Linked DNA regions of Homo sapiens: region 2 is linked to region 1. A link means that fine-mapping ties the variant in region 1 to the expression of a gene that starts in the linked region. Tissue or cell type: sun-exposed skin. Region 1 holds a variant in brackets; the other region holds the start of a gene. All regions are shown on one strand. Distances are from middle to middle.

Region 1 (5,231 bases):
ACTTACATGAATTTCAGCAAAATTTTTGGAATTCAAAGACATAGAAAATATATGTTTTTAATCCAAACTGAGGAAACAGGTGTCCTAAAAATAAATCTGGCATCTTTCATCCTTTTCTGCAACTGTAAATTTCTAAGACAATGGGAAAACAGCAAGACAGTTTTGAGGAATAAAGTTATGACCCAGAATTACATATGCAGTGAAGTGAAAATAATGATAATAGGCATTGTCAGAGAAATTAAAGAGACCTGAAAATTGTTCCAAACATGCTCTTTTCTTGACAGTATCACGTGGCAAGCACTATGCTAAACAGTTTACATGCATTATTTCATTTCATCCTCATATCATCCCTATAATGTGATGTTTAAAAAGGAAGAACCAAAGCTTGAATTAAGCAGTTCCCCCAAGACCACAAACACAAGATATAGTAAGAACTTCAACCCATGTCTCATTGACACCAACGTCCTTGCTCTTATTCACTCATTTATATAACTCCCTTAAGTAGTTATTAGGATATCTCTGCATCAGTATGTTAGACAAATAATACGGCAAGCTTCATAACAATCCAAGGGCTTCCTAATTAGCCCCATAGCCTTCTAAGTACATATCCCCCCTTCCCATCACCTTGCTTTATTTTGCTTCTTTTGAACATCAGTGGACATAATTGGCCATGGCATGTATCACCATTAGTTCATGTACATCCATCTGATTTATACCATTTTTTCCAATAGATAAAAATCTCGATCCCATTCCTTTCCCTCCTACAAGAGCATCACTGGCTCTTATTTATTTGCTCTTTTCTTTTAGTCTACCTTCCAAATCATTGCATTCTTGGCCTCTGTAAATTCTGGATCTAATGATCTTCTTTGTCTTTTTTGAAACTTTTTTGTTTTGTTTTACTTTAAGCACATGGTTCCTAGTTGCCTGGAAAATCTTTTTCTATCCCATTATTTTCAACATTTTTGCATCATTTTAAGTATGTCTTCATTATCCAAAATATTACTGAATATTATATTTAGATCCAGCCAGATTGACTTCTGATCTTTGAATTTATAGATCATATTTCCTTTAGTTATACTAAAACTGATTTCTATTGGCATATTTTGTATTATCTATGAAACACTCCGTGTTTTTCCCCCCTTTTTTTTGTTTTTCTAGGCTCCATTGGATATAGATAGAATATTTCATTTTTTAGTTTAAATGTAATAAAAGCCATGTTTATTCTTCTCTTTTTGAGGCCAAGACTAATGTTAATTTTTTTCCAATTAGTGTCTGAGGTTTTCAATATCCATATGTTCCCTTGAATACAATGGGAAGCTCAATATGCTCTTACTTCATCTGTTCCACAACCATCCTTCTCAGGCCCATATGGGTTTTATCTGAAATTGTTCTGCGAGATTTTTGTGGATATACAGGTTTCCCTTTTAATCTTTCCTCATTTATATAAAAATACATTATATTCATTTATTTATTCTAGAGACACAGTTTGCTCTGTTGCCCAGACTGAAGCACAGTGGCATGATCATAGCTCATTATAGCCTCAAATTCTTGGGCTCAAGCAACCCTCCTGGCTCAGCCTCCCAAAGAGCTAGGAATCCAAGCACATGCCACCATAGTCAGCTAATCTTTTTATTTTTTGTAGAGACAGGGTCTCACTATGTTTCCCAGGCTAGTCTTGAACTCCTGGGCTCAAGCAATGCCCCTGCCTCAGCCTCCCAAAGTGCCGGGATTACAGGTGTGAGGCACTGCACCTGGCCATTTTACTGAATTTTAATATAACCTAACTTGATATATTTTATCTCTCCCCCTCAATTCATTTCTCATCTTCTTGTTCTATATCCTCTAAGAATTCTTTCAGAGATGGTCTCTGTATAGTAAATATTCTGAGACACATAACCAAACCTTCACATTTATATGATAATTCAGCTGCATATAAAATTCAACATTCTACATATTGCTCATGTTCTCACACCCAGTACCTAAAACTGTGTCATGACCCAAATTAGGTACCAATAAATATTTAAGTGAGTGAATAAATGAATAATGAGTGAATGGATGCAATTATACTATTAAGAAGAGTGTAACTTAAAACCTGTGAAGAGAACCTATAATATACAATGGTTCTGCTGGTTTCAAAAATAGCAATACTTGAAACTAGAATATGCCATATTGTTTTCTATACAAATGCTGTAATTTCTCCCTTCTGTCTTGGTGACTCTTTCCCAAACATCTATGTAAAGGCTGGGCCCCTTCCTTCATATTAACTCACTTAAGCCTGAGAACAGCCCAAAGAGGAAGATGAGATCATCTCCTCTTCCGTTTTTAGAAATAAGAAAACTCAGAAGTTCCCTAACTTACCCAAAGCAATAATTGAAACATTGGTCCTCTGACAACAGGCACCAAACCCTCACTCTCTGATGTTCCTTAACATCTTCCAGTGGAAGAGAGGACTTTATGAACAGGGACTTTTCATCCTATTGCCTGGATAGACACTGTATTAGTCTGTTTTCACACTGCTGATAAAGACATACCTGAGACTGGGCAATTTACCAAAGAAAGAGGTTAA[T/C]AGACTTACAGTTCCACGTCGTTGGAAAGGCCTCACAATCATGGTGGAAGACAAAGAGGAGCAAGTCACATTTTACATGGATGGCTGCAGGCAAAGAGAGAGCTTGTGCAGGGAAACTCCTGTTTTTAAAACCATCAGATCTCATGAGACTCATTCACTATCACAAGAACAGCACAGAAAAGATCTGCCCCATAATCCAATCACTTCCCACTGGGCTCTTCCCATGACATGTGGGATTTACGGAAGTTACAATTTAAGATGAGATTTGGTTGGGGACACATCCAAATATATCAGACAGGGAAAATAATGATGAAGCAATCTGGTAAAAAAATAAAGAAATATGTAAAATCGGTCAAAACAGGAAACCTTTCTCTGTAATGTTTCTTGTTGCTTTGTAATCTTTGAAATTTATTAGGAAAAAGAGTATGTAATGAGCAGAAATGGAAGTGTGCTAAAACACATATCTAATAACCTCTTTATCTCAATTTATCAAAAGACTACCTCATTTCTTTTCTCAAAATCTCAGCTTCACAAGATGTTTTCTTAAGTTCATAAAAGAAATGAATCTCTTCCTATCTCATTGTCCTCCTGCCACTCTCAAGTAGGCCATCGTGTCTATTGTTCCCTTCTTTGTGTCCATGTGTACTCAGTGTTTAGCTCCCACTTGTAAGTGAGAACATGTAGTATTTGGTTTTTTGTTCCTGTTACTTCACTTAGGATAATGGCTTCCAGCTCTATCCATATTGTTGCAAAGGGCATGATCTCAATCTTTTTGATGGCTGTGTAGTATTCCATGGTGTATATGTTTTCTTTATCCAATCCACCAATGATGGGAATTTAACTTGATTCCACGTCTTTGATATTATGAATAGTGCTGCAATGAATATAAGCGTGCATGTGTTTTTATAGTAGAACAATTTATATTCCGTTGGGTGTATATCCAATAATGAGATTGCTTGGTCAAATGGTAGTTCTGTTTTAAATTCCTTGAGAAATCACCAAACTGCTTTCCATAGTGGGTAAACTAATTTACATTCCGACCAGCAGTGTATAAGCATCCCCTTTTCTCTGCAAACTCGTCAGCATCTGTTCTTTCTTGACTTTTTAATAATAGCCAGTCTGACTGGTATCTCAATTGTGGTTTTGATTTGCATTTCTCTAATAATTAGTGATGCTGAACATTTTTTCATAAGCCTGTAGGCTGCATGTGTGTCTTCCTTTGAGAAGTGTGTATTCATATCCTTTGCCCATGTTTTAATGGGATTGTTTGTTTTTGCTTGTTAATTTGTTTAAGTTCCTTATAGATTCTGGATATTAGACCTTTGTCAGATGCATAGTTTACAAATATTTTCCTCCATTCTATAGGTTATCTGTTTACTCTGTTAATTTATTTTGCTGCGCAGAAGCTCTTTAATTTAATTCGGTCTCATTTGTTAATTTTTGTTTTTGTTGAAATGCTTTTAGAGTTTCCATCATGAAATATTTGCCAGGGCCTGTGTCCATCCAGAATGATCTCTTTTAAGTTTTCTTCTAAAGTTGAAATGACCATACTGACTATATCAACTTACAGATTCAATGCTATTTCTATCAAAGTACCAACAAAATTTTTCACAGAATTAGAAAAAAAAACTATTCTAAAAATCACATAGAACCAAAAAAGAGCCCAAATACCCAAAGCAATCCTAAGTGAAAAGAACAAAGCCAGAAACATTACACCACCTGGATTTAAACTATAGTTCTAGGCTACAGTAATGAAAACAACATAGTGCTGGAACAAAAATAGACACATAGACCAATGGAACAGCTTAGAGAACCCCAGAAATAAAGCTGTAGTACATCTACAACCATCTGATCTTCGACAATAACAAAATGGGGAAGGAATCCCTATTCAACAAATGGTGCTGGAATAACTGCATAGCCATATGGAGATGATCAAAACTGGACCCCTTCCTTTCACCACATACAAAAAAACCAACTCAAGATGGACTAAAGACTTAAATGTAAAACCTAAAACAACTCTAGGAGAAAACTTATAATACCTAATACCATCCTGAATATTTTTATAAGAAGAAATTTCATTAGAACTTTGAGCAGAGCTCTTTGTTGTAAAATTGTCTTCCTACATTTGTTACATATTTTAAGAAAAGATTCCATGTTCAAATTATTAACTCTATCTTTAATCACAGATTGTAGACAAAATCTTCTATAGATCTATCTCAGAGAAACAGAGACCTGCTCTCCAATTTTCAAAAAATTACTAGATAAGCCCGATGTCTAAATAAACATGTGTGTCTTGAAACATGGCCCAAAGTTCAAGATAACCTCGTCTGTATACAATTGTAGGAGTGCATATTCTTCATCATAAATGCCACAGCACATGGTCCTGCAAAGAACTTGTCTCTGGGGGTACATGGGAAGAATTTTTTAAGAAATGAAATATTGAAGGAGGGGAAGGGAAAAAAGCAAAGTAGTCTGGTTTAGAAATTTGAACCCAAAATCAATTCTGAGCTTTTAGAAAAAACCAAGACCTTCATTATCACACATTAAGTAGGAAATTCGTATAGACCATTGGCCTTAATGTTAATAATGGTGGCTAAATCCACCTAAAAGACTGGTAGCTTGGGCTGTCCACTGAAGACTGTCAGTATCATCCAGGAAAGTCCTT
Region 2 (5,231 bases), 67 kb after region 1:
AATATGCAAAGGCTGTTCTAAGGAGAGGCTGGTAGTTTCTAGATTTCAGCTGGTCATAGGCATCAGTCAGGTTGTACAGAGAGAACAGAGTGACTGCTAATCCAGTAACTGATAAATGGAAGCCAGCCAGATAAGATCGTTTTTTATTGTATTCCCAATTTACAGACTGAGAAACTGGGGTACTGAAAACTTAGGTAATTTAACTTCACAATAGCTGGTAAAACCCTTAAAGGCGATAAGGAATACATGGTTATCGGAAAATTCTGTAGTATTACCTGGGGGTTAGAGTGAAAATGGTCTATTACATTCCAGTCAATACTGATGTGCTGGAAGTATACTGGAGGTATAGATAGTTAAACCTGACTCAGGGAAGTGTTTGCCAAAGAAGGAATGCCATCAACCAGGCAGAAGAAGGAGCAGAGAATGATTTGGACAGAAGAACCATTTGCAAGAGGGCTGAAGGCAAGAGTACAGCTGGGAAGAGAATTGCAAGTAGCTCCTAGAGTAGGAGAAAAATGATGAAAGACAATGAATTAAAGAGATAAATAGAGGCTCAATGCCAAAACAAACAAACAAAACTGTATAAGTCACTCTAAAGAATTTGAACCTTATTCTCAAGACACTAGGAACCCAAGAAAAGAACTGGTCAGTTGAGTCACAGGCTCAGATTTGACCTTCAGAGATATCACTTAACTGCCCTGAGGAGAAAGCAGTGGAATGCCTGATAGGTGGCAAGAGCTGCTGGTGGTCTGGATTTGCATAATTTCTACAGAGAGAAGATACATTTAGGAGCTAGCTTTAACATGACTTGCTAATTGATTGACTCTGGTGGTGGTGGTGGTGGTGGTGAGAATGAAGTAATGTTAAGGTGACTTTCAGGTTTCTGGGGCATTCATCTGGATGGAGGGAAGTATCCACTCTTTAAGACAGTGAATTCAGGAGGAAACAAGTCAGTTTCAAGGGTGGTGAAATTTAATTCTAGACATGTTACATTTGAACATCCAATTTTTAATGACCTGTGGGTAATTGCACATATGGATTTCGAGTTTAGGAAAAAGACCTGGGCTGAAATATGGATGTTGTATATGTCAGCATGTAAATGTAAATGGAATTCATGGAAGAAGATGAAATTATACAAGGAGAATAAAGAATGAGAAAAGGAAATGAGCCAAAACTCCCCAAAATGGTAGCACATTTATATCCCTGTCATATGTCTCATGTCTCAAGAGCAAGCCTCCATACTGATGTTACCTTGCTTATGCATAATGGCATGTGTACAATGGAATCTTTCTTCTTTTTAAAAACTTCAATGAATTATACCTAATTTTCCTTGTATGAAATAGATGGGGGGCCGGGTGTGGTGGCTCACGCCTGTAATCCCAACACTTTGGGAGGCCAAAGCGGGCGGATAGCCTGAGGTCAGGAGTTAGAAACCAGCTTGGCCAACATGGTGAAACCCTGTCTCCACTAAAAATACAAAAAAATTAGCCGGGTGTGGTGGTGGGCACCTGTAATCCCAGCTACTTGGGAGGCTGAAGCAGGATAATTGCTTGAACCCAGGGGGTAGAGGTTGCAGCGAGCCGACATCGCATCACTGCACCCCACTCCAGCCTGGGTGACAGACTGGAGTGTCTCCATCTCAAAAATAAAAAAATAAAAAAAATAAATAAAAATAGATGGGGGATACTGAGCTGGAAAATCCTTACTATGACTGTAGTGTGTTTTGTCTACTCCCAAGCAGACAAAATCATAAATTCAAAACCAAGGTGCCATCATTATAGATATTTTCTAATTATAATTATACATCATCCAAAAAGGTAGTAGCGTTGTTGTTAATGGTAGCTGGAAATAAGAAAATGGGATACCATATCTAAAATAGGGTGTGTTAACTTCAAAGTGAGTCTTTTCCTTCCCCCGTAAGTGGGAGTGATTTGCTACAGTGAAAAATCAATGGGCCTTAGAGTCAGGGTTAAAGTCTCAACTCCACAAGCTATCTCCACTCCTCAATCATGAGCAGTTTACGCAACTCCAAGGACAGACAAGCTTGGGCAGACAGCATGCAATAAACAATGTATAGAAGTGAAAACTTACTTTAAGCTTCCAGGGTTTGTTTTTTGGTTTGTTCATGTTTTCTGTCTTGCTTTTATTTTTATTTTTTTTGCAACAAACACATTAGTTACGTTCTCTAGGTCTATTTCCTTACCCAGAGGAGGAAGGCCCCTTAGCACATGATCTCTGCGGTCTCCATTAGTTTCAACATCTTGTGGCGCTGATCACCTGTAAGTTAAGGAACAAACTTCACTGGGAAGTCCTGTAGCCTGAATCCAGCCCCAAACATCCACTCCCCCAGCTGAGGAGGCCGGGAGGTACTTTTACCCTGGTAGCATTCTCAATCAACATGTGTCATTACTCAAAGCGCAAGTGGACCAAGGTGCATATACTAATTTTTTCCTCCAAGGTCTTAGTTTTCATTTTACTTTGAAATGTCACTGTGACTACTTTTATTATTACTATTACCAGGAATCTATGATTGCCATCGAGGTCTATTAGAAGGTCATCTCCCATCCCCCACCCCGCCCAGCTTTATCCAGTGCACGAAGGCTGGCTATTTGTAATTCAATATACACTTTCCAAAACCACGAGTTTTACGTTTTATTATTGTTTTTACTTTTGAAGCCGATGTATGGGGGAACACCCACCAGCATTAACGTTGAAAGAGCTGTTTTCATTGAAACCACTCTTTCATCTGTGGATGGTAGGATAATTTATCAGTGTCTTTAATTTGGAATTGAAAAGTTTCCTGAAAACACTGCTAATTAAACTTTACTTCCCTGAAGTTCTCCTAAATACCTCCAACTCCGAGAACTAGCCCAGTATTTGCTCACTTCCTTTTGCCTTTCAACTCCATTTGATATATGTTTCCCACGACGTAGTGGAGACTTCTGGCTGGAGAGGCTGGAAAATATAACTCTGAATTTCCTACAATCTCAGCTCCACTTTCTCCCGCGCGTAGGCCCCCGGCTGGAGCGGTGTTATTGTCACGTGGCCACGGGGACGCCCGCAGCCGAGTCGGCCAATGGGCGCGCGTCGGCCTCTACCCGCCCGCCTTGCTACTCCGCCGCGCGGGGACTTGGCGCAGTGCCGCGGGGTGGAGGCGAAAAAGTTTCTTTTGCAGACAAGAAGGGGCTTCGGCGAGCCGACGCTGCTCAAGCTGCAACTCTGTTGCAGTTGGCAGTTCTTTTCGGTTTCCCTCCTGCTGTTTGGGGGCATGAAAGGGCTTCGCCGCCGGGAGTAAAAGAAGGAATTGACCGGGCAGCGCGAGGGAGGAGCGCGCACGCGACCGCGAGGGCGGGCGTGCACCCTCGGCTGGAAGTTTGTGCCGGGCCCCGAGCGCGCGCCGGCTGGGAGCTTCGGGTAGAGACCTAGGCCGCTGGACCGCGATGAGCGCGCCGAGCCTCCGTGCGCGCGCCGCGGGGTTGGGGCTGCTGCTGTGCGCGGTGCTGGGGCGCGCTGGCCGGTCAGACAGCGGCGGTCGCGGGGAACTCGGGCAGCCCTCTGGGGTAGCCGCCGAGCGCCCATGCCCCACTACCTGCCGCTGCCTCGGGGACCTGCTGGACTGCAGTCGTAAGCGGCTAGCGCGTCTTCCCGAGCCACTCCCGTCCTGGGTCGCTCGGCTGTAAGTATTCTTCCCGCGGGGGGAGGGGGCCCGGGCCGCTGGAGATTCGAGAAAACAGGAGCCGGCGGGGAATGGGGTTCGGCGTGCAGTCCCCTTTTTGCCGTATAGCTCCTTCTGGCCCAGGCCGCGATCGGCGCTCCGTGGGCGTGGAAAAAGAACTGTCCGGGCCTCAGTTTCCCTCCCACGTGCTTTGCGGGCGGCGCAGGTGGGCTCTTGGCGCGTCCTAACTGGCTGCAGGTAGACCAGGGTTGGGGGCCAGTAACGACGCCAGAGATTGGGGATGAAGTCCTGCGCCCTAAGCTAGCCAAGGGGTTCAAATGCTTGCTCCTGCCAGGCCCAGGGGAGATAAGCGGCAACCTGCACACATCAGGAGTTTGCAGTTCTCGCTGAGTTATGAGTCTGGTTCAGTTTTAGTTTCTAGCTGCGTCAGACTCCTTTTCCTGTTCCCACCCAGTAACTGAAGTCAGGCTTTTCATTTGGGAAGCCCCCTCAACAGAATTCGGTCATTCTCCAAGTTATGGTGGACGTACTTCTGTTGTTCTCCCTCTGCTTGCTTTTTCACATTAGCAGACCGTAAGTTCCCACTCCTCAACCAGATTGTAAAGACTGGTCGGTAGCTATGGAAAGGGCGGAACTCGATTATCCAGAATCAAGGGCGTGATTTCTGTAGCTCCTCAGAACGCCCAGACGGTTTAGGGGAGAGCGCAGGGAGCTCTTATGCAAGTTTTTGGATTTTTAGCTGCGAAGTCTGAAAACCTGAAATCACTGCCAACTGCGTGAAGAACAAGGAAGAAAATGTAATTTAGTTGGAAATGCTGATCTTTTCCAAATGTCATCTCTTTTCTTCCTCAGTCCCAGTTTTAAAATTGGAGTGCTGTAAAAAGTAAACAATCAAAATTTGTATTTTTTAAAGTAGTTGTTCTGTTTAAAATAAAAGTGCACTTCATACGTAATCTTATATTTTGACTTAGCAGAATTGCAATGAAAATTTTAAGTTTTTAAAACAATTCTAGTGAACTATTCCAATGCCCTAATGTGGTAGGAGGTTTGGTCAGGTGTTTAAGAATTTATATTTTAAAATTATTGTGCTAATCTAAATAACTTTTGTGAATGTAGAATTGTTGGCCATCAGAAAGTATATTCCTTGTGTTTTTAATAAGCCTTAGTTTAATAAAGTAGAATTAGTATTGGATTGATATTTAATTTCTTGGGACGTTTTATTTAGTAGTTTTTATTGCAATTGGAAGAGGAGATAAGGTCTTTAACCGAAAGCAGGGAGACTTTCAATTAGTTGTGGCTAATTCTGTTAAATTGCCTCTTGTGGAGGTCATGCTGCCTTATTCATGAGTGAATGGCTCTATTGACAACATATGGAACTGAACATGTAAATGACTGGAGGTGAACACTTAGGAATAATAGAGGGATGAGAAAGAGAAAATGAATACAGTGCTTCCTGGAGTGTATTTAGATATGCTTAGATTATTCACGGCATCTAACTTGTATTCGATAGTTTTTCAATGTCAAGTTGTCTATTGTGATCATGCTAGTGTGCAGT

What was found. PIP is the estimated chance that this variant, and not a neighbour inherited with it, causes the effect.
Region 2: it holds the start of LRIG3-DT, and the variant in region 1 is fine-mapped to the expression of LRIG3-DT in sun-exposed skin (GTEx, PIP 0.97).

The regions. Positions count from the first base shown.
Region 1 is chr12:58,985,916-58,991,146 of GRCh38, reverse strand. All of the region lies in intron 2 of LRIG3-DT (LRIG3 divergent transcript), which reads right to left. Among named protein-coding and RNA genes, the nearest start is that of LRIG3-DT, 68 kb to the right of the region's middle. The variant T/C (reference allele first, on the strand shown) is at 2,567.
Region 2 is chr12:58,918,445-58,923,675 of GRCh38, reverse strand. LRIG3-DT (LRIG3 divergent transcript) reads right to left here and starts at 2,972. Exons shown (of 6, transcript NR_183518.1): 1 at 2,886-2,972; 2 at 2,204-2,277. LRIG3 (leucine rich repeats and immunoglobulin like domains 3) reads left to right here and starts at 3,172. Exons shown (of 19, transcript NM_153377.5): 1 at 3,172-3,676. The coding sequence starts at 3,441. RefSeq lists silencers at 2,288-2,397, 3,016-3,125, 3,546-3,625 and an enhancer at 4,006-4,275.